Linked DNA regions of Homo sapiens. The protein of the gene in region 2 interacts with the protein of the main gene of each other region in a pairwise test. Each region holds a gene or a part of one and is shown on either strand. Other genes may lie near its edges.

The links.
Region 1: the proteins of MS4A3 (region 2) and STX8 interact in binary tests that used the Homo sapiens proteins (3 or more experiments, as listed by UniProt).
Region 3: the proteins of MS4A3 (region 2) and TEX264 interact in binary tests that used the Homo sapiens proteins (3 or more experiments, as listed by UniProt).
Region 4: the proteins of MS4A3 (region 2) and CD72 interact in binary tests that used the Homo sapiens proteins (3 or more experiments, as listed by UniProt).
Region 5: the proteins of MS4A3 (region 2) and PLP1 interact in binary tests that used the Homo sapiens proteins (3 or more experiments, as listed by UniProt).
Region 6: the proteins of MS4A3 (region 2) and CD53 interact in binary tests that used the Homo sapiens proteins (3 or more experiments, as listed by UniProt).
Region 7: the proteins of MS4A3 (region 2) and EFNA5 interact in binary tests that used the Homo sapiens proteins (3 or more experiments, as listed by UniProt).

The regions. Positions count from the first base shown.
Region 1 is NC_000017.11:9,565,821-9,569,320, reverse strand, and holds part of STX8 (syntaxin-8), read left to right. Parts: intron 1-850; coding exon 851-950; intron 951-3,500. UniProt on the Homo sapiens protein: Vesicle trafficking protein that functions in the early secretory pathway, possibly by mediating retrograde transport from cis-Golgi membranes to the ER.
Region 2 is NC_000011.10:60,055,445-60,059,464, reverse strand, and holds the start of MS4A3 (membrane-spanning 4-domains subfamily A member 3), read right to left. Parts: upstream 2,801-4,020; 5' UTR 2,725-2,800; intron 1-2,724. UniProt on the Homo sapiens protein: Hematopoietic modulator for the G1-S cell cycle transition. Modulates the level of phosphorylation of cyclin-dependent kinase 2 (CDK2) through its direct binding to cyclin-dependent kinase inhibitor 3 (CDKN3/KAP).
Region 3 is NC_000003.12:51,698,752-51,702,251, reverse strand, and holds part of TEX264 (testis-expressed protein 264), read right to left. Parts: intron 2,847-3,500; coding exon 2,678-2,846; intron 1-2,677. UniProt on the Homo sapiens protein: Major reticulophagy (also called ER-phagy) receptor that acts independently of other candidate reticulophagy receptors to remodel subdomains of the endoplasmic reticulum into autophagosomes upon nutrient stress, which then fuse with lysosomes for endoplasmic reticulum turnover.
Region 4 is NC_000009.12:35,609,482-35,612,447, forward strand, and holds the end of CD72 (B-cell differentiation antigen CD72), read right to left. Parts: intron 2,439-2,966; coding exon 2,323-2,438; intron 1,273-2,322; coding exon 1,143-1,272; 3' UTR 1,121-1,142; intron 820-1,120; coding exon of another isoform or gene 669-819; 3' UTR 501-668; downstream 1-500. Other genes in the region: TESK1 (dual specificity testis-specific protein kinase 1), read left to right, coding at 1-261. UniProt on the Homo sapiens protein: Co-receptor of B cell receptor (BCR) that plays both positive and negative roles on B-cell functions. Recognizes the Sm/ribonucleoprotein (RNP) self-antigen ligand, and coligation of CD72 and BCR inhibits BCR signaling.
Region 5 is NC_000023.11:103,779,840-103,783,339, forward strand, and holds part of PLP1 (myelin proteolipid protein), read left to right. Parts: intron 1-3,500.
Region 6 is NC_000001.11:110,879,648-110,883,147, reverse strand, and holds part of CD53 (leukocyte surface antigen CD53), read right to left. Parts: intron 1-3,500. UniProt on the Homo sapiens protein: Structural component of specialized membrane microdomains known as tetraspanin-enriched microdomains (TERMs), which act as platforms for receptor clustering and signaling.
Region 7 is NC_000005.10:107,380,938-107,384,437, reverse strand, and holds part of EFNA5 (ephrin-A5 isoform 1 precursor), read left to right. Parts: intron 1-3,061; coding exon 3,062-3,183; 3' UTR 3,184-3,500. UniProt on the Homo sapiens protein: Cell surface GPI-bound ligand for Eph receptors, a family of receptor tyrosine kinases which are crucial for migration, repulsion and adhesion during neuronal, vascular and epithelial development.

The DNA.
Region 1 (3,500 bases), on a different chromosome or scaffold from region 2:
TTTTTCTTCTTAGCACCTATCAACACCTGACATACTATGTATTTAATTGTTTTATGACTTTCTTTCCTTAAAATATGAGCTCCTTGAAAGAGGGACTGTGTTCATTCTGTTTACTGCCGTCTTCTCCAGTGCCCAGAACAGTGCCCAGTGCAGCGGAGACCCCCCACATGCTTTCTCATTGGCAGAACAGCACAGTTGTTAAGAGCCCCGGCTCTGGGGCCAGACGGCCTTGGTTTGCAGCAGGCAGAACCACTTGGGCAAGTCACTCTAACTCTTTGTGCCTCCTTTTCTCATGTGTGAGTTGGAGATGGTAATGGTACCCACTTCATAGCGTTCCTGTTTTGATTAAGTGAGTTATTACTAACGAAGCCTTCAAAATAGTGCCTGGCACATGGTAAATAACGCTCAGTCCATGTTGCTTTTACTGGTCATGTTATTATTCTTCCCCTCTGTTTGAATTCTTTGGCTAGAATGAAAATGTCAAACTTAGACAATGCAAAAATTTCTTTTAAAGAACCTTAAGGCCAGGTGCAGGGGCTCACGCCTGTAATCCCAGCACTTTGGGAGGCCGAGGGGGCGGATCACGAGGTCAGGAGATCGAGACCATCTTGGCTAACACGGTGAAACCTCATCTCTACTAAAAATACAAAAAATTAGCCAGGCATGATAGCGGGCGCCTGTAGTCCCAGCTACTGGGGAGGCTGAGGCAGGAGAATGGTGCGAACCCAGGAGGCAGAGCTTGCAGTGAGCTGAGATCGTGCCACTGCACTCCAGCCTGGGCGACAGAGCGAGACTCCGTCTCAAAAAAAAAGAACCTTAAACATTTTCTCTTTTTACGACTTTGGTGCAGGTTCTCCACATACGATTCTACTTGTCAAATTGCCCAAGAAATTGCTGAGAAAATTCAACAACGAAATCAATATGAAAGAAAAGGTGAAAAGGCACCAAAGGTAATACCATGAAGGAATTAGTACCCAATGATTTGTTTGAGTTTTGAGGCCTGAAAACCCTCCTATCTTTCTTTGAGGCTGTCTGTGCACATGTGTGTATGATGATCTATCTGCTTACATATGTTGAATTGACATAACACCCAACCAGTTAGTAGTGATGTAATCATTGAGACTAAATGAGGCATAACACATTTAAGTTCTCCTGTTTTACTTTAAATATTTCTAACAATTTTATAGTCTAGTTCAGGGGTTAGTAAACTTCCTACAGATAATAAATCTTTTAGTCTTTGCAGGCCAAGAGATAATGTCTTCAAGTCTTTGAGTTTCCATTCTCACCACAAGAATAGTTATAGTTTTTACATTTTACATTAAAAATGTAAAAACAGGCCAGGCATAGTGGCTCACACCTGTAATCCCAGCACTTTGGGAGGCTGAGGCGGGCAGATTGCTTGAGGTCAAGAATTCGAGACCAGCCTGGGCAACATGGGGAAACCCCATCTCTACTAAAAATATAAAACCTAGCCAGGCGTGGTGGCACACACCTGTAGTCCAGCTACTCAGGAGGCTGAGGCAGGAGAATTGCTTGAACCTGGGAGGTGGAGGCTGCAGTGAGCTAAGATCGTGCCACTGCACTCCCGCCTGGGCAACAGAGTGAGACCCTGTCTCAAAAAAGAAAAAAATGTAAAAACCATCTTTAGTTTTGGGCTGTATAAAAACAGTGGTGGGATTTGGCTAAGAAATAGATTTTTGTGAAATCACAAGTTTATACTTGTGACTATGATTGAAAATAGAAGCCTCTGATTCAAATCTAACACCACACCTTTCTTCCTTATTTTCCACATTCCAAATTTGTATTTTCTTTCTCTCACACTGAGAATCCTAGTTTCCAAAAGCATCAGTATGTTTTTACTCATTTGGTCTATTTTACAGTTTACAGAAAATGGTTTCAAAATTACTATAAGGTACCACGACAAACACTGAGTTCAAAATTTGAGTCTTTTTAAGTGTAGACTAATCTACTAAGAATGCTGAGGTTATTATGTTCCAAAGTTATTAGAATTATTTTTTAACTTTCAAGTTCAGGGGTACATATGTGGGTTTGTTGTATAGGTAAGCTTGTGTTATGGGGATTTGTTGTACACGTTATTTTGTCACCCAGGTATGAAGCCTAGCACTTACTATTTTTCCTAATCCTCTTCCTCCTTCCAGCTTCCTCCCTCTGCTAGGCCCCAGTGTGTGTCATGTCCCCCTATGTATCCATATGTTCTCACCAGTTAGCTCTCTCTTATATCAACAGAGTGAACAAACAACCTACAGAATGTGAGAACATGCGGTATTTGGTTTTCTGTTCCTGCATTAGTTTGCTAAGGATAATGGCCTTCAGCTCCATTCATGTTCCTGCAAAGGACATGATCTCGATCTTTTTTATGGCGGCATAATATTCCATAGTGTATATGTACCACATTTTCTCTGTCTGGTCTACCATTGGTGGGCATCAGGTTGATTCTATGTCTTTTGTTATTGTGAATAGTGCTGCAGTGAACATACACATGCATGTGTCTCTTTTTTTCTCTTTTTTTTTCGAGACGGAGTTTTGCTCTTGTTGCCCAGGCTGGAGTGCAGTGGTGCAATCTCGGCTCACTGCATCCTCTGCCTCCCAGGTTCAAGCCATTCTCCTGCCCCAGCCTCCAGAGTAGCTGGGATTACAAGTGCCTGCCACCATGCCTGGCTAATTTTTGTATTTTTAGTAGAGATGGGGTTTCGCCATGTTGGCCAGGCTTGTCTCGAACACCTGACCTCAGGTGATCCACCCACCTCGGCCTCCCGAAGTGCTGAGATTACAGGTGTGAGCCACCCCACCTGGCCACATGCATGTGTCTTTATGGAAGAATGATTTCTATTCCTTCGGGGATATACCCAATAACGGGATTGCTGAATCAAATAGTATTTCTGTTTTTAGTACGTTGAGGAATTGCCACACCGTCTTCCACAATGACTGAACTGATTTACACTCCCACTAACAGTGTATAAGTGTTCCTTTTGCTCTGCAACCTCCCGAGCATCTGTTATTTTTTGACTTTTTAGTAATAACCATGCTGAGTGGTGTGAGATGGTATCTCATTGTGGTTTCGATTTGCACCTCTCTAATGATCAGTGATGTTGAGCTTTTTTTCCTGTTTTTTTTGGCAGCATGCCTGTCTTCCTTTGAAAAGTGTCTATTCGTGTCCTTTGTCTGCTTTTTAATGGGGTGGATTTTTCTTGTAAATTTGCTTAAGTTCCTTATAGATACTGGCTATTAGATCTTTGTCAGATGGATAGCTTGCAAATATTTTCTCACAATGTGTAGGTTGTTTGTTCACTCTGTGGATAGTTTCCTTTTCTGTGCAGAAGCTCTTTAGTTGATTAGATCCTATTTGTCAATTTTTGCTTTTGTTGCAATTGCTTTTGATGTCTTTGTCCTGAAATCTTTGCCTGTTCTTATGTCCAGAATAGTATTGCCTAGGTTGTCTTCCAGGGTTTTTATAGATTTAGGTTTTACAGTTAAGTCTT
Region 2 (4,020 bases):
GTGGCACGAATTTACCTATATAACGAACCTGTACATGTACCCGTAAACCTAAAATAAAAGCTTTTTATTGAAAAAGAAAGTATAGTATCTTAATTTCTACTCTTTGTTACAAATTATATACTAGATCCATTTTTCTAATAACTTAATTTTTTGTCAAGCTAAATACACGCCACTTTCAGGATGTTTACCTTTCTGATACTCTACTCTGGGGGTGTGTATGACTCATTTAAGTGTGATGACAAATTTACTAAGCATTGACTAAAAGTGAGAGTCAAGCCATGTTTTATTATTACACTGGGAATTGCTATAAAAATTCATAAAATTCTCTACCAATACTGATAAAACATTTATTATAAATGTCATAAAATTTTGCTACCAATACTCTTCATCAAAGTTTCCTACCAATATTGATTTTCATGCCAAGATTAAATTACATTCTGTATGTATTTAAGTATGGATAAATGTGAAATGACAAGGAACCCTTAACCCCCCGTGTTCAACACTGTACAGAACCCAAGAGCGAGGGAAGATCAATAAAGCTTAAAGCAAACTCTATGTGAATAAGTTCCTAACGTAATTATCTGCAAAAAGTATAAATAAGAATAGCCAAAAAGCCAAGACTTCAAATTTATCCACTGGGAAATTTGTGTGTATTTTGGATTAAATATCTAATGAACTAAGATGCATGCAATACGGAGAATGTTGCTGCTTTATGACCAGATAATCTCTCGCCTACGTCTCCTGCCTCACCCCTCACCCATCCCTATCTCAAAACTCCATCCAGCCTTATTTTCTTGATTTGTCTTCCTTCAGAAGTTCTAAACCCTCAAATGTCTTCAATCCTCTGTGCTATCCCCCATTCCTGAAAGACAAGTCCCCTCAAGCTTCACCTGGATAATTTCTGCTCTCCTTCCAGACTGAATTTTTTTTTTTTTTTTTTTTTTTTTTTTTTTTTTTTGAGTTGGAGCTTTGCTCTGTCTCCCAGGCTGGAGTGCAGAGGCCCGATCTCAGCTCACTGCAACCTCCGCCTCCTGGGCTCAAGCTATGATCCTGCCTCAGCCTCCCAAGTAGCTGGGATTACAGGCGTGCACCACCACACCCAGCTAATTTTTGTACTTTTAGTAGAGATGGGGTTTTACCATGTTGGCCAGGCTGGTCTCGAACTCTTGACCTAGGTGATCCACCCACCTCAGCCTCCCAAAGTGCTGGGATTACAGGCGTGAATCAATGCGCCCGGCCCTTCCAGACTGATTTTCAGCCCACATGTCATACTTCCAGGATGCTGTTTTTAGTCCTGGCCAACTCTGGAAGAAGCATGCACCCCTTTGGGTTGCTCTCAAAATTTCCTCAACTTTCCTTCTCATACCACTTAATCAGCCTGAGCTTTAATTGCCTGGATACTTGTCTGTTACCTCGTTGTCTACTCATCACTGCAACTCCAGTGCCTAGCTCAGAATCATCAGATGGCAAGCACTCAGTTAACACACATGTTCAATCAGTAACCAGACTTTTGGTCCAGCCCAAGGTAGCCATCCTGATAAATGATGATGGAAAATACCTCTGCAAGCACTGGAGCCTCTCATCTCAAGAAACTCCAAGAGCATTTCTGAAGAGAGCAAATATCTAACCATATTATTTAACTTGATTTGTTTCAAATAATCAAAATAATCAGGGAGAATTTTCAGCCTCCAGGTGAAACAAACTATGTTTTCTAAAATTTGGTTAAATCAGTTATTTATTTTTAAAAAAATCAGAGAAATGGTCCGGGTGCAGTGGCTCATGCCTGTAATCCCAGCACTTTGGGAGGCAGAGGCGGGAGGATCTCAAGGTCAGGAGATTGAGATCATCCTTGCTAACATGGTGAAACCCTGTTTCTACTAAAAACACATAAAATTAGCTGGTTGTGACAGCACGCGCCTGTAATCCCAGCTACTCAGGAGGCTGAGGCAGGAGAATTGTTTGAACCCATGAGGCGGAGTTTGCAGTGAGCCGAAATCGTGCCATTGCACTCCAGCCTGGGTGACAGAGCGAGACTCTGTCTCTCTCTCACACACACACACACACACACAAAATCAGAGAAATGTAGATTTTCTAGGAAACTGCCAGTTAAGTTCATCTCTCCAGCTCTTAGTATGTGGCAGGCATTTGTTCTAAGGGCTTTATCCATGTTTACTAATTTAGTTCTCACAACATCAGATGAATGGGTACTACTGCTATGATCCTTTCCATCTAACAGATGAAGAAGCTGAGGAACAAAGAAGTTAAGTAGCTTTCCCAAGCCCACACAGCCAGCAATTTGAGAAGCTAAAAATCAGAACCTCAAGCTATCATTACACTCCACTGTCCCCTGAGCTATGCTAAAATGCACTTTGCAGACCCCATACTTCAGGCATATCGAGACCACCCCTCATCATCAGAGCTGGCAGACAAACTCAGGTGCAGCCAGTGGGATTTAATGTACCTAAGAGGTGCGTGTGCATGTGTGTGTATCCATACCCACATTTTCCCAAAGAAATTGCTGTATTATTATGTCTAACACTTTTTATCATGGCTCCAAAGGAATCATCACATCCTAAAGAGAAGCCATGTTCACAGTTAAATGTTCCAAACCTCTACATAGCAACCAAACAGAGACCTTTGCAGACATCCCCAGTAGTCCACTGGGAGGCATTTTAACGAAAGATATAAAAGAAAGGGGAATGTCTATGGAGAGGGAATCTATACCTTGGAGGCTTCAGGCTTTGGCAGACGGCTTTCCTCCCAAGTCCACCTTGTCGCAAGTAGGAGACACTCAGAAAAGATCACTACAGCATCTTTTCCCGATAACGGAAGCCTCCACAGACTTAACGTTATCTTTGCCTTATGCAACACTTTAGAGGACTTGGTGAAAGTGTTTTGCGGGCTGACTGACCAGTGTGCTAATCACATCTGCATTTGGGGCCTCGCTGATCCATTGTGTTTCCCCAGGGCTTAGTGATGATTAGGAAACTGGTGTGAGGGATAACTGTCTTCTGGCTTTCAGATGTTGCTTAACACATTGCTGGAACAGGAAACACAAGCAACAATATGGGTAGACAAGTGGGAAGAGGTTGTGGGTTGGAGGTAGAACAGTGTTAGGTGCATAGCAAGAAGAGACAAAGTCACACTGTAAGAGAAGCATCTGGAGGAGGGAGGTGGTCACTCAGGCACTTATTTTACATGATGTGCCAGCAACGGTGCTATGTACCTTATATGCGTGATGACATTCAATTCTTACATGCTTAGAGAGGTTAATTACTTTGCCCAATATCACAGATATAATAATAATGCTAATTATTGTTTAAATGTATTAAATGGTTACTACATACAGGTCATTGTTCTGAATGCTTTACATATGTTAATTCATCTCATCCTCACAATAACCCAGGACCCAGGTACTACTATTAACCCGATGTTATGGTAGAGAAAACTATGGTATAGAAATGTTACCCAGCTTTCCTAAAATTTAACTGGAAAAGCCCTGTGCAAAATCTCTGTTTTGTACAATGGTGAAGCCCGAAGTGTGCCTGTTATCCTAATATGATTGTTAAAACCCCTCCTTTCAGTTTCTTTTTTGTTTTTTGGTTTTTTTAGGTTTTTTGTATTTGTTTGTTTGTTTCGTTTGTTTATTGAGATGGCGTCTCACTCTGTCATCCAGGCTGGAATGCAATGGTGCAATCTTGGCTTACTGCAACCTCCGCCTCCCGGGTTCAAGCAATTCTCCTGTTCCAGCCTCCTGAATAGCTGCAACTACAGGCATGCACCACCACTCCCAGCTAATTTTTGTATTTTTAGTAGAGACAGGGTTTCACCGTATTGGTCATGCTGGTCTCGAACTCCTGACCTCCGGTGATTCACCTGCCTCAGCCTCCCAAAGTGCTGGGATTACAGGCATGAGCCATCGCGCCCGGCCTCCTTTCAGTTTCAAAAGTGGCCAAATTATATGCTTATCCTAAATAAATGTCCTAAAATAGGCAATAGAAAGATCAGAGCCAAGTGACA
Region 3 (3,500 bases), on a different chromosome or scaffold from region 2:
CCAGGCCCTCACTGCTCCTTAAATAATGATCAGTGCCCCAGGGACCGCAGGCCTGAAAAGAGCAAAGGAGGGAGACAGTTTCTCCCTGGCCCTATTAAACTGTATGTTCTGTCTGCCCACCCACCCAATGGCTCTCTTGGGACCCCAGGTATAGGAATGTGCCTGCTTCCCAGCATGCTACCTCCTACCACCCAGCTCCTAGGCTAGGAATGTTCAGAGGAAGGAGCCTAGGGGTGCCTCCTTCAGGCCAGGACAGCCTGCTGAAATGAAGACAGCCCCTGGAGACATATATACACTTCAAGCAAAGGAATTCAGCTGGAGGCCAGGCACGGTGGCTCACGCCTGTAATCCCAGCACTTTGGGAAGCTGAGGCAGGTGGATCACATGAGGTCAGGAGTTCCAGACCAGCCTGGCCAACATGGCAAAACCCCATCTCTACTAAAAATACAAAAATTAGCCGGGCATGGTGGCAGGCACCTGTAATCCCAGCTACTCAGGAAGCTGAGGCAGGAGAATCGCTTGAACCCACGAGGTGGAGGTTGCAGTGAGCCAAGATCATGCCATTTCACTCCAGCCTGGGCAAAAAAGGAAAACTGTCTTTAAAAACAAACAAACAAAAAAAAGGAATCCAGCTGGGCATGGTGGCTCATCCCTAGAATCCCAACACTTTGGGAGGCTGAGGCAGGATCACTTGAGCTAACAAGTTCAAGGCCAGCCTGGGCAATATGGCGAAACACCATCTCTATAAAAAATACAAAAACTAGCCAAGCATGGTGGTACACGCCTCTTGTCACAGCTACTCAGGAGGCTGAGGTGGGAGGACAGCTTAAGCCTGGGAGGGAAAGGTTACAGTGAGCCGAGATCTTGCCACTGCACCACTCCAGCCTGGGCGATAGAGCCAGACCTTGCCGCAGAAGAAAAAAAAAAAAGGAATGCAATACGGGGAAGTAGCATCCCTATACCCCCACCAAGATCTACACAGGAGGAGGTCCCAGAGTCCCATGCCTGCATCCCTGGGCAGAAGATACCAGGCAAGGCAGGGCCCTACCTAAATCCCCACGACTACTGGGGCAGGGGACTTGAAGCCCACCCCCTTCACCCAAATCCCTCCCTCTCGCTCTGCCCACAGCCAGTGCAAGACGATCAAATATTCATCGCCTCTCTGAAGCTAAATAATACATCAATGTAATAACAGGCACAAGGCAGCTAATCACCCCCTTTCACCTCCCGGCCTAAGCTAGGGCCACAGCAGGGAGGCGGGCAGGGACAGGCCAAGCCTTGGGCAGTCAGACATCCTGCATGCACCCACCACCAACTGCTGTGTCAGTGGCATGCACCTGGTGGGCAAACACCGAGTCCCGCTGGGGTGTCAGGACAGGCCCTGTGAGAGGTGGGCAGACCCCTTGGCCCCAACACCAGGGAGTGGGTGGGCGGGCTGGAGGGGAGGAAAACAGGCTGAGGAGCTGGGGAATGTGGGAGCTGCCACTACAGCCAGCTGTAGTGGGTGCCAAGCAGTCCTTCAATGACCCTGACAGGCAGTGTTTGGGAGGGAAGGAAGCTGGGTGGGTGGGTCAAGGAGGGGGAGGCAGGCAGCAGAGGGAGGTCACAGTAAAGTGAAGGCACTCTGTCTTCCTGCCCTGGAGGCTGCCTGGGCCTGCTGACCTTGTGCCATGTCCTGTGCCCACAGTAGGGGCACTGAAGAGTGTCTGCCGGGCACTACCAGGCAGAAGGGAGCTGTACCCCATGGAGGTAATTAAGTGGCAGATGAAGTTAACTGTGTTGGACACAGGCCCCTAGGGAGTAGAGACTGCTCCCAATACCCTCCTACCCAGCCCTAGCTGACACGTCTCCCTAGGGTGACCTTGGCTGTTGAAGACTGGATGGGCAGAGCATCTGCTAAAGAAGGAGGAGAGGAGGGACAGTTCCTCTCCCCACAGCCCTGTACCACTCCTAGAAGTCACAAACTCCACCAGGTTGGCCAAGGATAAGGCCCCCTGGGACCATCTGGGATGTAACCCAGCAGACCCCCTTGTGCCTGAGACAGCCCGGGGTCACAGATCATTGCAGAGGGGTGGGCAGGCAAGCAGCCTTCCAGCCTGGACCTGGGGCCTTGAGGCTGCCAGCAGGAGTGTGGGCTGGCCCTGGAGAAAGGCACAGGTGACTGATCTCCTGGCTCCCCTCTGCATGCTCCCTGGTTGTTCCCTGGCAGGGAGAAAGCAGCTGGCTCTGGGTGGGGCCCGTACTGAGGGACAAGAGAACACTTTGCTCCCCTCCTTACCTTCCAGATCTATGCCAATCTTACTTCCTGCTGAGCCCCACCCAAGGGACTCCTTTCCTGAGCAGCCTCAGCCCCCTCCCATGAACATCGAGCTGTCTGTGATCTTTGTTTCCAAGGGTACTCCTGCTGCATCTGGAGGGAATCCAGGCAGGGTCTTTGTATCTGTGTTGCCAGGAGGTAATGTGTGTGAATCCACATCTATGTAGATCCATGTGTCTGGGAACAGGCAACTCCACATGTGGGTCCTCAGGTAGGTGGGTCTCCTTCCTCCCTCTGCCAAGCATAGCCTGACACCCACAGTGCCAACCCAGAGAGGGAGGAGCCTCCTCAACCAAGCCCCTGGAGTCCAGAAGAGAGGAGCTCCAGGAGGGCCCCATCCTCATACCCCACCTTCTGTACCTGTGCCATCCACCTGGGTGTCAATGGCCTCCACAAGCCCCCGCCATTTCCACTCTGTCTCCTTCATCTCAGGCACATAGAAGTCTCCCTGCCGTGCCAGTGGGCACATGAAATGGATCTGGTCTTCCTGGTAGATCTCCAGCCGAGGATAGGCACACAGCTTCCGCTCCTAGTCAGAGAGTGGCAAAAGGTAGAATGAGCCCTACAGGGCCCCTGACTCACTTGTCCCTGGGTGACCCCCAGAACTGTCTATTACCTATTCTGTCCCAGGGGCTGGCTCTGCCTCTCAACCTCTTCCAAGTTCCAAAGCCCTGCTGAGGGAGGCACACATAGATCACCCTAACAGCAGGGCCCCATAGTCCAGAGTGCAATAATAGTCTGAAGACCCAGGACGACACCCTAGGGCAGGTGGTAAAAGAACCCAGGAGCCTGGCACTGCTCTCCTATGTGTACATCTGAGACCAAAAAGCTGTTCCAGAAGGCACTGGTCTCACAGAGCCATGAAGCTTGGCACCCCTGGACCACCCCAGGATAGGGACCCCATGTGCCTAAGCCAAGGTCTCACCTACCAGACTTTCCATCCCAGGACCCCCTGGCCCTGACCTCCTCTCCACCCTGGACAACGCTGACTGACCCACAGATATCAGAAGACCAGCACCCCCAGTCCTTAGGCCTCCAGCCCCTGCTCTTGCAGACATGCTACTATAGACCCTGAACAAGGATCAAGGCCAGCTAAACACCACTTCCACTCCCATTCATTCCCCTGCTAGTTTAGAGCTATGTCAACCTCTGAGACTATCAGGTATGGTTCCCATACCTCCTC
Region 4 (2,966 bases), on a different chromosome or scaffold from region 2:
CTGCCCCGGGCGGCAGCCCTGGAGCGGACAGAACCCTCGCCACCCCCTTCAGCTCCCCGGGAGCCCGATGAGGGGCTGCCCTGTCCTGGCTGCTGCCTCGGCCCCTTCAGCTTTGGCTTCCTGTCCATGTGCCCCCGCCCCACACCAGCTGTTGCCCGCTACCGCAACCTGAACTGTGAGGCGGGCAGTCTCCTCTGCCACCGAGGGCACCACGCCAAGCCACCCACACCCAGCCTGCAGCTGCCTGGGGCACGCTCTTAGCAGTGGAGCCCGTGGTCTCAGGCCTCCAACTTTGGCCTTCAGGACACCCTGTAAGAACAGAGCACACTTGCTGGACAGTGCCAGTTCCAGATGGGCTGACCGGCTCTTCTCCCCGTGTAGGGGAGCCCCAGCATGGACTCAAGGGACAGAGCACTTCCAGTCGACCCCCCGGCTCGCGTTCCCGTGGGGATCACTGAACCAGACACAGCATTGCTGACACATGAGACTAACACGTGCAATTATTTAAAAAGATTTCAATAAAACTGCCTGGCTGGCTCCGGGCCGCCCCTATCCGCTCAGCCCGTGCGCCCTCCTCCCCCACCCCATTCTACCATGGGAAGTTCTTGGGGGGAGGCCAAAGTCCCTTCTAGAGGTGGCTTCACCCTTTTCCCAGGAACAGTCCAGTTTCAGGAAGAGGGAGCAGGCAGCAGACTGGCTGGAAGTGTCAGGTGTGGGTCAGCCGGTGGCTGGGCACTGCCCAGAATGAAGGAGATGGTCTGAGGAACCCCAGGCCTCAGGTTAGGAAGGAGGGGCACAGGTTCTTGTTGGCATGAGTGTCTGGAAAAGTAAAGTATCAGTGAGCTCCATGGTTGACTTAACTGAACCCTCATCCCACTCACCCCATCTCCTCCTCAGCTCTCGACAGCCACACCACCAGCCTCCCATAAGTTGTAGGCCTTACCTGTCCCTCCCTGCCCACCCCACCCTAACAAGCAGACCAAGCAACTGGAGGCTGTGGAGGAACTTTCATCCCAGGTACAAGTTTTCTCTCGGGCCCCTGGGCCCCTGCTCTGAGTCCCTGCTCTGAGTCCCTCTGCCCCTGGACTCCCCATGCCTCAGCCCCATCCCTCACTCTTACCAACTCAGTGCAAAGGACTGTCCTAATCTGGAAACCTGAAAGCTGTCATCTCACAGATGTAGGGAAGAGAACTTCTACATGACTCTGACTCCAGTGTCCACCATGACCAAGTTTTATGTACCTTGTTACATTTTGAGCTTTGAGCATAAGTCCTAAAAAGTAGTAAGGTAGAGCTGGGATATGCTCTGGACATATCCCACCCTCCCTTCTCTCCCCTTCCCCTGTATAAAACCTAAATCCTAACTCACCCTGCCTGCCTAAGGCCACATCTGGGCATGGTTCAGGACAGATGTCTGGAGTTCAACTAAAACAGACTTTAGAACCAGCAGAGGGAAAAATAACTCGAGATCTTAAAGATGGGAAGGCCAGGCTGGGCACGGTGGCTCATGCCTGCAATCCCAGCACTTTGGGAGGCCAAGGCGGGTGGATCACAAGGTCAGGACATCGAGACCATCCTGACTAACACGGTGAAACCCCGTCTCTACTAAAAATACAAAAAATTAGCCGGGCATGGCGGTGTGCGCCTGTAGTCCCAGCTGCTGGGGAGGCTGAGGCAGGAGAATGGTGTGAACCCCTGAGGCGGAGCTTGCAGTGAGCTGAGATTGCACCACTGCACTCCAGTCTGGGCGACAGAGCGAGACTCCATCTCAAAAAAAAAAAAAAGATGGGAAGGCCAATTGAGGAACATAAGGAGGTTGCCACCCTGTTTCAGGGTCCCTAGGGTTGATCCTCAATGGTACCCCACTGCTGTCTTGATCACAGTGAAGTGGAGCTTCGATGGTACCCCCGCTGCTCCCTTGCGTACTTCACTGAGGCAGCTCTAGTGCCCCAAGTGGCCGCTACTGAGAAAGTACAACCTCAGTTTGGGTGGCCTTCTCGAAGGATGGAGAAACGCTGCTGTCATCAGCTGTGGAGCCTTAACTAAATCCTTAATGTCTCCCCCTAAAAGATAGCGTAGGTCCCAACCTAGTAGTTACTGAAACAAAAAAGTATGTGCCAGGGACTTCTAGGTGGAAATAGAATGGAGAATAAGATTGCCCTAAGAAGTTATTAATCAAATAGAGGAAACAGACAAATAGGCAATTACAGTGTTGATTTATGGGAGAGTCCTGAGGGGACCAGGTGGGAAGGAAATCTGATTACCATGTCTTTATGGAGGGGATTATGGAGTTGAAAATACCCAGAAGTCCTAACAAACTTACCTAGTGCGTTGTGTATCATCAGTCAACTTCCAATCCTTGTTAGAGCTGAGGCCAGTCCAATATGAATTCCCTGAACCACCATTTGGCAACAGTGAATTTAAGAAGTAGTAAGAGTGCTGAGGGGAGATTCAGAGAGACCAGAGATACATGGAGAGTGATGAGAAATATGGAAGAAAATGCACACCCTAGGGAGGCCTCAGCTTTGGCAAGGGGGCTGTATATATGACAGCTCTTTGGTAACTTGTCCCTGAATCCATCAAGTGCCACCCTGCAGATGCAGGCTCACTGCTAAATTTGCCTTCCAGCTGAGTAAGAATCTCTGCCAGCCTTTGGAGGGGAGTCATTCTGTGTGCTGTTCTGGCCCCAAGGAACTAATCCCTACAATCCAGCCCACCAGGTGTGGGACCTCTCTGCCTGAGAGGCCACAAGAGTCCAGGAACCTGTCAAGCAGCCCAGGGAGCTGACCAGCAAGCTGAGATGAGATACACATTAAAGTAGAGGCCGGGCGCAGTGGTTCACACCTATAATCCCAGCACTTTGGGAGACTGAAGCAGGTGGATCACCTGAGGCCAGGAGTTAGAGACCAGCCTGACCAATATGGTGAAACCCCGACTCTATTAAAAATACAAAAATTAGCTGGGCGT
Region 5 (3,500 bases), on a different chromosome or scaffold from region 2:
GTCCTGAAGCCTTGAAAGCCATCCCCTGGGTACAGGTCTTTGTCTTGAAAGAAAGCAACAGTAGAAATGCCTTCCCTGCCCACAGCACTTCAGGTCTAAAGAAGACCAAGTGAGGACAGTGACATGATCAGGAAGGGTCACAGCAGCCATGGTAGGTGAATGGAGCAGCTTTTCCTTCCTTTCCTGCTTTCAGAGCCTACTCAGTGCCAAACTTACATCAAAAGCTCAGCAAGTACTGATTGATTAATCCCTCTTGCCTACGGCAAAATGGCCCTGAGGGCTATCTCTCAGCTCTGCACTGGCCTCTGAGCTGTCTGCCAGGCAGGGCTCTAGAAAAGAGTCCCAAGGAAGAGAATAAGGTTCCCCAAATCAGCTTCACACTGCAACAAGGAGAGAGGAGGAAATGGTGGGAGACTGACCTGAGGAACAAGGTATGGCTACTATTGTCTCTAGTACCAGTTACTTCCCTTTCATCTTCCCATTCGTGGGCAAGGTGGAGACAATGTGCCAAGGATAAGTTTTAACAATCAAAGTCCTACCTCAGCTTCCCAATGCTTGCACATAAATTGGAATGTGTACATCATTCATTCTGTCTCTCTCTGTGTGTGTGTGTGTGTGTGTGTGTGTGTGCGCGTCTGAAGAGGAGTGGGGAGTATAGGAAACAAGATAGTCCAGATGCTGTTGCCGTGGTAATACTAAATCGTGTCCAAAGAGGAGGCTGAGATTCCTTTTTAGTTAACCTTGTCCACATGATTTGACTATCCAGCAGGCTTGGATTCCCAGGCCCCAGAGACTTCGGGACTGTTTTCCAGCACTTGAATGTGGTATATAAGTGCTGATATCAAAAGGGATATGTAGGAAAGACAAGATTATAGGCAGGGCATTGTCTGACCAGGACGAGGCCCGAAGCAAAAGTCTTTGTTTGTCTCTGGCACCTCTTGATAATTGTTGTTTTACTCCTAGAACCCACCCACTGATCCCCATCCATCCCTAGTACCAGTCACGGCTGCTCTAGCATTTCGGCCTTGTCAACTACTGCAGGCCCTGATCAAGGAGGCCTCTGTTCATGGGGTAAGGTTAAGGGGTGGGTTCTGGGAGGAGGGTAAGACTGTAGTGCAGATTCGAGACCTAGGGAGGTGGGGCCAGTTTCTCACTCAATGAGCCTGCCTGTTGTTTAGCTCTATTGTATAGGGTTCTTCTATCTCTCCCTTTGTCAGCTGGATTCAAGGGACAGGCTGGGAATTGTGCAGGGTACAATTGGTCTCTTTCTACCATTCCTTTCGATGAAAGCCCTTCCTCTCCTTCCTTTGATGAGTTCCCAGATTCACACTGAATTTCCATCATGGAGCTGGTCCTTGAGGCGGGCCCAGGGCATGGGAAAGGAGGGAGGGAGGGTTGGGAGCTCTTGGTGCCTGCTTAAAGAGACAGCATCAGGATCAACACAGTCCCTTGATGAACCTGGATCTGTGTAAGTCACATTGGTTCTGTTGATCTCTGTCAGACCGCTGTGAAGAGCGCTGGTGAGAAGGGCTTAAAGTTGGAGTATCAACTATCACAGATTGATTAGACTTGTTTTGGGAGTTTGTATACAAATGTAGCCAACCATGACATGATCTTTTCCCTTTGCTTACATTTTGCCCACACAACTTCGTTATATCCATTTTAACACTTGCTTATAGGTAGCTTTAGATTTTGATTCACAGACATATGTTTGTTCACCCCAACAGGATTTCAAGTTTTCTAAAGAAAGGGACTGGCCTTTTAATTCCCTTCTGTTTCTCCTAATGTCTATGTCACTGCTAGTGTGCTTAATTCTTGTACTGAATTCACATAAACAGAAATGAAAGAAAAACACTGGAGGGGGTCATTATTTTTCTCTATGACCTTTCATCAAAGTCAGGTGGCTTAATCTGACTGAGTTGCATTGAGAAATGTTATTACTATATGGTTCTTTTATGCCAACTCTCTCATCTCGCAGTCTGTACTTAGACTGGAAATGTGAGAATGTCTCTTGAGAGAGCCAAGGAACTTCTCCCCTAGAATCTCTTCCAGCCTTCTTGAATCAAACTCACACCCTTTCAACCAGGAGGGGTTCTGAAATGGAGAGCTTTTGGCTTTAGGCTATTGTTCACACATACCCAAGGGACATTTCTTGGACTGTGAAAAATCAAAGGGAGCCCAATGGATCTTTTCTCAGAATGCTTTGATTGTCAACTACTTTGATGAAAAAATAATTTCTTGCAGGCTCTGAGTTTTTCTCAGTTAGAATCTAAAATCTGATTCTTGCTTGGACAGACTGACTGAGATTCTTCACTTCTGCTGAACTTAAATGCCCCCAAAGCAAACATTTCATCTAGGTTGTGAAGAGATGAACATCTGATGCTTATGCTGATATTACTGAATTGTTTATAGCTTAATAGTGATAGATTTATCTAAAGTCATTTATTTCAGACTTTACATTAGAAACTCATTAAAGCCTACTTCTTTCTTGTCCCTTGCTTTGAGCTGTAGTGGAGCAGAAAAGGGGATGCTAAGTTATTCAAGTTCTAAGAAAATAGAGGAAAAATGGATGTAAAAAGAAAGGCTATGATCTGGTGACTCAGAATTGCTCCTAAGGCTTAGCCATTTATCACCCAGTAAGAACACAATCCATGACACTCTCAGGTTATTTGGATGATGATTGAGGGATCAGATACACTCAAGAGGATGTTTCCCTCTCATCTTTGCAACCCTAGAGGTGGCATCACCTAACGCTTAAAGTGGAGTTCTCTTTTGGCTAGCAAGAGTTCAAGTTCCTCCATCCCTGACCATACCTGCACAAGCACTTAGCCCTTCCCAGATGAAAATGCTGGGATGAGTGAGTAGGCCCAAGATGGTCACTTGCTAGGGTGGATGGCTCTTCTTACCCTCGGCTAAACAAACAGTCCTGCCATTGTTCCCTGAGTCTGACCCCCTCCCCACCCCCCGGCTGCAGGCCCCTGTGGAATACCAATCAGGCTCCTGAGATCTCAGGAAAGAACAAGGCTTCTTTGTCCGGGGGAGCTATGGAGGGCTCTGTCCAAGCCCTGACCCTGTGCTGGGGAGAAAGGGAACAGTGGGGTCACTGACCTTCTTCTCCCCCCATCCCCAGGCTTCAGAGACTTTCTTTACTAGAAAAGTCTAAGAGTTTGGGGGTGGGGAGGAGTTGGATAGGCAGAGAAGGAAAATGGCAGTACTGTTTACTTCTAAGCTCCTTTTCTTGACTTATAGGCTGAATCTAGTATCTTAACCTGTTGAGAAAGAGGAAGATCAATTTCTGGAATGTTTTCTGAGAACAACAATCGATTTCAGTTGTTGTGTTTTTCTCTGTGGTATACATGTGTGTATGTGCACATTTGTACACATGCATGCATGTGCGTGTGCACACACACAGACACACCCATGGGCCAGCTCTGAAAAGACACTCTTCCCAAGCACGTTTGCAAAGTTCATGCTGAGTAAACTCAGCCTCCACTCACAGC
Region 6 (3,500 bases), on a different chromosome or scaffold from region 2:
CTTACCCTTATATAAGGAGGAAAATAAGTCTGTTTACTCTTAACTACTCTATTTGGCATTGTACTGGAGTTTCTAGGCAGTGCAAATGAAATATGAAAAGAATGGCATCCAAACTGGAAAGAAAAAAAAGTAAAACTGGCTTTGTTCACAGATATCATGAATGTCTTTGTAGAAAATCTAAATAAATCTACAAAAATACTACTAGAACTAACAAGTAAGTGTAGCAAGGTTGCTAGAAACAAGATTCAATCCACAAAAAATAATAGCATTCTATGCACTAGTAACCATTAGAAATCAAGTATTTTTAAAAGTATCATTTACAATAGCATCATATATGAAATACTTAGGCATAAATCTGACAAAAGTTGTGAAAGAATTGTACACTGAAAACTTAAAAACAAACATTGCTGAAAGAAATTGAAAAGATGCAAATAATGGAGAGATATACCACGTCCATCTACCAGGAATTCAATATTTTTAAGATGTCAATTCTTCCAAATTTATCTATAGATTGTAATCCCCATCAATATTACAGCAGAATTTTTTGTAGGCTTCAAGAAATTAATTCTAAAATTCATTTGGGAATGCAAAAGACTTAGAATAGTAAAAATGAGTTTGATAAAGAACAAAATTGGAGTACAAACACTACCTAATTATATTGCTTTCTATAAAACTACAACAATAAAGACAGGATAGCACTGGTGTTAAATAAATATATCAAGAGAACAGAATAGAGTCCATATGCATATGGACAACTGATTTTCAAAAAAAATACAAAATTAATATATTACAGAATGAAGAATACTTTTTTCAACAAATGGTGCTGGAACAATTGTCTATTAATATGCAAAAATGAACTTGCATTTATACCTCTCTCCATACGAAATCGTAACTAGTGATGAATCATAGATCTAAAGGTAAAATCCAAAACTATAATTCTCCAGAAGGAAATATTTGCAACCTTGGTTATGCAAAGAGTTCTCAGATAAGACACCAAAAGCACAATAAGTTGATAAATTGGACTTCTTCAAAATTAAAAACTTCTGCTCTTCAAAAGACACTGTTAAGAGAATGAAAAGACAAGGCACAGAAGGGACAAAATATTTCCAAATCACACAGGAGATAAAAGGCATGTATCCAGAGTATAAAAACAACTCTTGAAGCTCAATGGTAAGAAAATAAACAATCCAATTTTTAAAATGGGCAAAAGATCAGAACAGACAATTCACCAAAGAAGATACTATATGGATGGCAAATAAGGACATGAAAAAAATTCTCTACTTCATTACTCATTAAGGAAATGCAAATTAAAACCATGGTAAGATACCACTCCACATCTCCTAGAATGGCTAAAATGTTTTCAAAACCTGACCACACCAAGTGTTGGTGAGGATGTAGTGAAACTGGAACTCTTATACACTGTTGGTGGGAATGTAAAATGGTATAACCATGTTCAAAAGCAGTTTGCTCGTTTTGTACAAAGTTAAACATATACTTATCATATGATCCAGCCATTCTACTCCTAGGTATTTACCCAAGAGAAATGAAAGCATATGTCCATACTAGGACTAGTACAGGAAGGTTCATAGTTTTGTAGTATTATTTGTAATAGCCCAAACTGGAAGCAACCCAAATGTCCATAAACAAGTGAATGTATAAATAAATAGTGGTATAATTTTACAATGGAAACTACTTAGCAATTAAAAAGAATGAACTGTTGTTACCCTCTACAGCACAGGTGAATGTAAAAATAATCATGGTGAGTGAAAGAGGTTAAATAAAAAAGAGTACATTCTGTATGATTCCAGTTATATAACATTTTAGAAAATGAAAACTAATCTATAGCAACAGAAAGCAGATCAATGACTGTCTGAGGATGAAGGTGGGGGAGGGCAGGAGGTGAGTAGAGAGGGAGCAGGGAAGGGTGAGAGAAAGGGATTACAGAAGGCCACAACAATCTGTGGTGAGTGATGCATACGCTCAGTGTTTTGACTGTGGTGATGGATTTATGCATGTACACTTACGTCAAAGGCCCCTCCTAATTTGCTCCTGTCCATCACTCCACACTCATGGCAACACCCCCTGTATTATACTTTAAAATTTAGCAAAGCAATATTGAATCCTTGTCTTAATGCTTCCTTCCTTACTTTGGTAATGTGTTTCTTTGCTGAAATTTTCTCTTTTCTTTCTGGCCTCTTATTCTGGTTAGTTACTCATCATCCTAATGATGTGTCACTTTTCCAGGAAGTCCTCTCTGTTTGTGTCTAAGTCTTCACACCCAACCCTCACTTGCCCTAAGGAGTATCTGTAATACCTGTGTACCTCTGCCATTGTACTAACCATTTTGTTTTATAAGTGACTATTCCCTCACTAGAATGTGAGCTCCTTGAGGGTAGGATCTATGCTATTCATCTTTGAATTCTCAAAGCCTCATTACCTCAGAATTATCTGATGTAGTGGAATGAACATGACACTGCAGAGTCAGGAGCCTTGGGCTTGAATTTTCAGTCTGCTAATAAACTGATGTTTTGGACATAGGAAAATAACTAACTCACCCATCAGTAACAGAAAGGAATTGAGCCAGATGCCTCCTAGAGTCACATCAGCCCCAACATCCTGGTATCCTGTGACAATTAGTTCAGGCCCGTGTAACCTGATTGTCCACAGAACACCAGCTGGCTAGGTGCCCACAAACTTAGGGACATTCCTACTGATTCTTTCCTTCACAGACAGGAAGAAGAACCTCTTCTTCCTTCCTCTCCCACTTTCTACCTCTCCAGACTCATACTAAATTGAGTAAGAAAATCTTCTCACCTGGTGAAGATTGTCACTACTTTTGCCACATGCCATAAGGGCCCCAGAGAGAATGCTGCTCCGTTTCCCCTTCCCCTTTTCACTGTTACTGGGCAGTGATTAAGCCTCCCACCCCTTCCAACTACCATCTAGAGGAACCGACACCCCTCCCACAGTCAAAGTCTATGACTCTTAGATGCATGACTCATGGTTCTATGCAAAAAGCCACCAATATCAGTTTCCAGGAAACCTGCGTGACCAAACTGCACTTAACTGTGGCTACCTTCCACAACTCAACATGGAGGTTAGGGATCAACTTTGCTCTTTAGTTTCCTCCAATGGGCTTGAGCTGGTAGAACCTGCGGATTTCTAATTCCATCCCTGTCTTTTTTTTGACCTGTACTAACAGCACCATGTAATCTACTCTTGAATTTAATCAAGCTTAGAAGTGGTTAAGGTTGGATAGAGGCTTCAAGAACCTCGATCAGGCTCGCCATGGTGGCTCACACCTGTAATCCCAGCCATTTGGGAAGCTGAGGTGGGAGAAGCCCTTGAGCCTAGGAGTTTAAGACCAGCCTGAACAACATAGAGAGACCCTGTCTCTATTTTAAAATTTTTTTAAGTTAAAAAAAAAAGAACCTCTATCAGTTCTTCATCTTCAGCCTTATCTGATCCAATATTACAAGCTAGGCTGGAGCCACATAAGA
Region 7 (3,500 bases), on a different chromosome or scaffold from region 2:
CTTTTTTGTTTGCTTGCACACTCTGCCTGCCAGTTTCCTATCATCAGGGATGCAGGATGATCTCAGGGCAGACATATGCCACATAACATGCTCCAAAATATCGCTAGTGTTCTCTCCGTTAACCATTGAAACCCCCATGTTGTGGAATCCTGTAGCCAGGAGGCAAAACTTGATTTGACTTCTGAAGAGGAACGTTTTCTTTCTTCTTCCAAGCCTGTGTTACAAGCGTTAGAAATTCTCTCATGTTTAGGTGTAGTTTCCATTGGGATAGATTTTACCTATGAATTCCTCCTTAGAATTCTGAAATTGCTCAGATTTACCCAAATGACAGCCAGTTTCTCATTTCACATTTGGGGGCTGTAGAATCTTCCAACATTGAGAACCTGTTTTAATCAAAGGATGCTTTGTGGAATCCTGAATGAGGAACAGCATGTTGCAGGAAGAAGAGAAGGATCCTGATGCCCTAATGGGACTGATTTCCTTTTGGGGGGCAGGAAGATATATATTCGTTGGGTGCTTATAAAAGGTTAATTCCAAAGATTGTGTATGGTTAAAGGACTGAAAGTCACACTTAGCCTCATACTTCACTTAGATGAAAAACAAAAGCCTTCCTCTCCATTACCTTGTAAGATCTATTCCTTGTGTCTTGTGCTGAGTGGACCTGGAATAATGGATAGCCCTCACTGAGTACCTAGAAGGGACTAGGGTGGTGATGAAGGGGTTCACACCGAAGATCTAAGTGCTAGCTGGGTACCTTTAACAGTACACTTGCAAGCTATACAAGGAGAAGGATTGGGTAATATGCTAGTAAAAATAAGATGGAGAGGAATCCAATAGCTGATGCAATTTCAGGTGTTTAAGTATGTGATATTGTGAAATGAACTCTGGAATCCTCAGGGTTTGTGGTTATTTCACAGTTAAGCCTGAAGTGCTCCATTGTTTTGATTGACAACATATTGGTGCTCTTAAGAAAGTGATTTGGATTTTAATTTCAGGGCTATTAAGGGCCTTTACTTCTACTTCCTATTAACTACAGATTTAATTAATACACTTGCAAGGCTGAAAAAGAGCAGAGAATAGAAGAGGGTCTGAAGGTACTTGGCCACATTGTGGAGGACTTTATATATATTTTTTCTGCATCCATTTATCTTACCATCTTGCTTCCTAACCTTTTCTAGTCTCCTAAGCTAAAATCACTCCATGCAGATTCGCTAAGGTCCAGGAAAGGGGAGCACATTTGACAAGGGGATGCAGTAGCTTTTATTCGAGGGGAGGCTAAAATGGTAAGAGCACTCCAGGTCAGGAGACTCAACACTGAGAAGACCTTTCTCATTGGGAATGGATGTGATGGACAAAACCATCCCAAACGAGCATATCTGAAGCAGGGGTCAGCCTGTGAACCTGAAAAGTGGTTACTTTAGGACAAATATTAGCGAGTGTGATTCTACCCAGTGAAGGAAAAGCACCCTTATTGTGACACGTGTGGTAGGAAAATACAAATGAGTTTAAAATAATGGTTAGTTAACCCATTAAGGGGTTTGAGGTGGGTCATCCAGGGGTATTTAGGGATTATCCTTTGAGGTCAGTATAATTGAGAACAACCACTAGAGCCTTGTTACCATTCTGTCTGGCCCTTGAGCAATTCCCAGATGGCAACTGCTGAACACCTGCAGGAAGTTACCCTGATGCTGAGATAAAATTTGCACAGGGGCTCACTATTGGCCCCCAAAATGTGTTATTCAGAGATCCTTAGTCTAAAAGCACAAGTGGCCAGGTATAGTGGCTCATGTCTATAATCCCAATCCTTTGGGAGGCCAAGGGAGGAAGTTGGTTGAGGCTGAGTTTGAGACTAGCCTGGGAAGCAAAGGAAAACCCTGTCTCTCTAAAAATTCTTAAAATTAGCCAGGCATCGTGGTTCACACCTGGAGTCCCAGCTACTCGGGAGGTTGAGGCAGGAGGATTGCTTGAGCCCAGGAGGTCAAGACTATAGTGAGCTATGATTGGGCCACTGTACTCCAGCCTGAGCAACAGAGCAAGACCTTACCTCTAAAAAAATATTAATTAATTTAACTTAATTAAAAGTAAATAAAAGCATAAGTTAGGTCAGGTGGAAAGAAGAAGACAGGCAGCCCTGGAGCAGAGCTTGGCTCCTAGGCAAGCCTCCAACCTCTCTTTGGTACTAATTGCTTCAGAGTTCCCATTTGGAAGTTAAGCCTGTTAATCATGCAGATCAGGAAGGCTATCCAAAGTCAGAGGCAGCCTCATAGAACACTTTATAGCTAAATAAAAGAAGCTTAACTCACTTAATCTATTTTATTTAGAGGAAAATTTGCATCCACGCTGATAATTTATGTGCCAAGCTTCAGCCCGATAAAAATAAAAATAGTCAAGTTCAAGTAATTTAATCTTAGAAATACAGGGTTTGTAATAGAAATAGCACCATAATTGACACCTAATTGCAGGCAAACTAGTGGGCATACGTTTATTGAAGTTTACTAGGCATGATGTATAGTTTATCCAAAATGCTGCTGTTTTGGCATTTAGTTTTTCATGTTTGAAAATTCGTCTAGGCATCCAACAACCAGGCATTCAACACTAATCCTATGAAACAGCTAAAAGAAGGGAAATGGGCAGCGCATTCTGGTTAACCACTACTGTGCCAACATAACTGCCCCTTCCCCCACCCCCACCAACATGTCACTTGCTTGCCTGTGACATCTTAGGTTTCAAAGGTACATTCAGATATCTGAAATTTGTGCAAGGCGTGTCTGACTGCTGGCTAACCAAAGCAGCTCACAGGCCAAAGGTTACGGTGTATGCATAATTTTTCCCCTCAATTTTTAAGGAAAGTATTAATATTGCTGAGAAAGTCCAATTTTCTTTGCCTCTTCTTTGTTTGCTGTAAATAATGAGTGATTATGCAGACATGAAAGTCAATGGTGGCACAAGGTTCATTACCCTACTTTGCAGAGGGTGGCGAGGTCTGTTAACAGCAGGCTGCTGCAAGAGAGTTATTAAGGATGTGAAATCTCATTGGAATGTGTGCTTTCTATTTGAACAGATGACACCGTACATGAGTCAGCCGAGCCATCCCGCGGCGAGAACGCGGCACAAACACCAAGGATACCCAGCCGCCTTTTGGCAATCCTACTGTTCCTCCTGGCGATGCTTTTGACATTATAGCACAGTCTCCTCCCATCACTTGTCACAGAAAACATCAGGGTCTTGGAACACCAGAGATCCACCTAACTGCTCATCCTAAGAAGGGACTTGTTATTGGGTTTTGGCAGATGTCAGATTTTTGTTTTCTTTCTTTCAGCCTGAATTCTAAGCAACAACTTCAGGTTGGGGGCCTAAACTTGTTCCTGCCTCCCTCACCCCACCCCGCCCCACCCCCAGCCCTGGCCCTTGGCTTCTCTCACCCCTCCCAAATTAAATGGACTCCAGATGAAAATGCCAAATTGTCATAGTGACACCAGTGGTTCGTCAGCTCCTGTGCA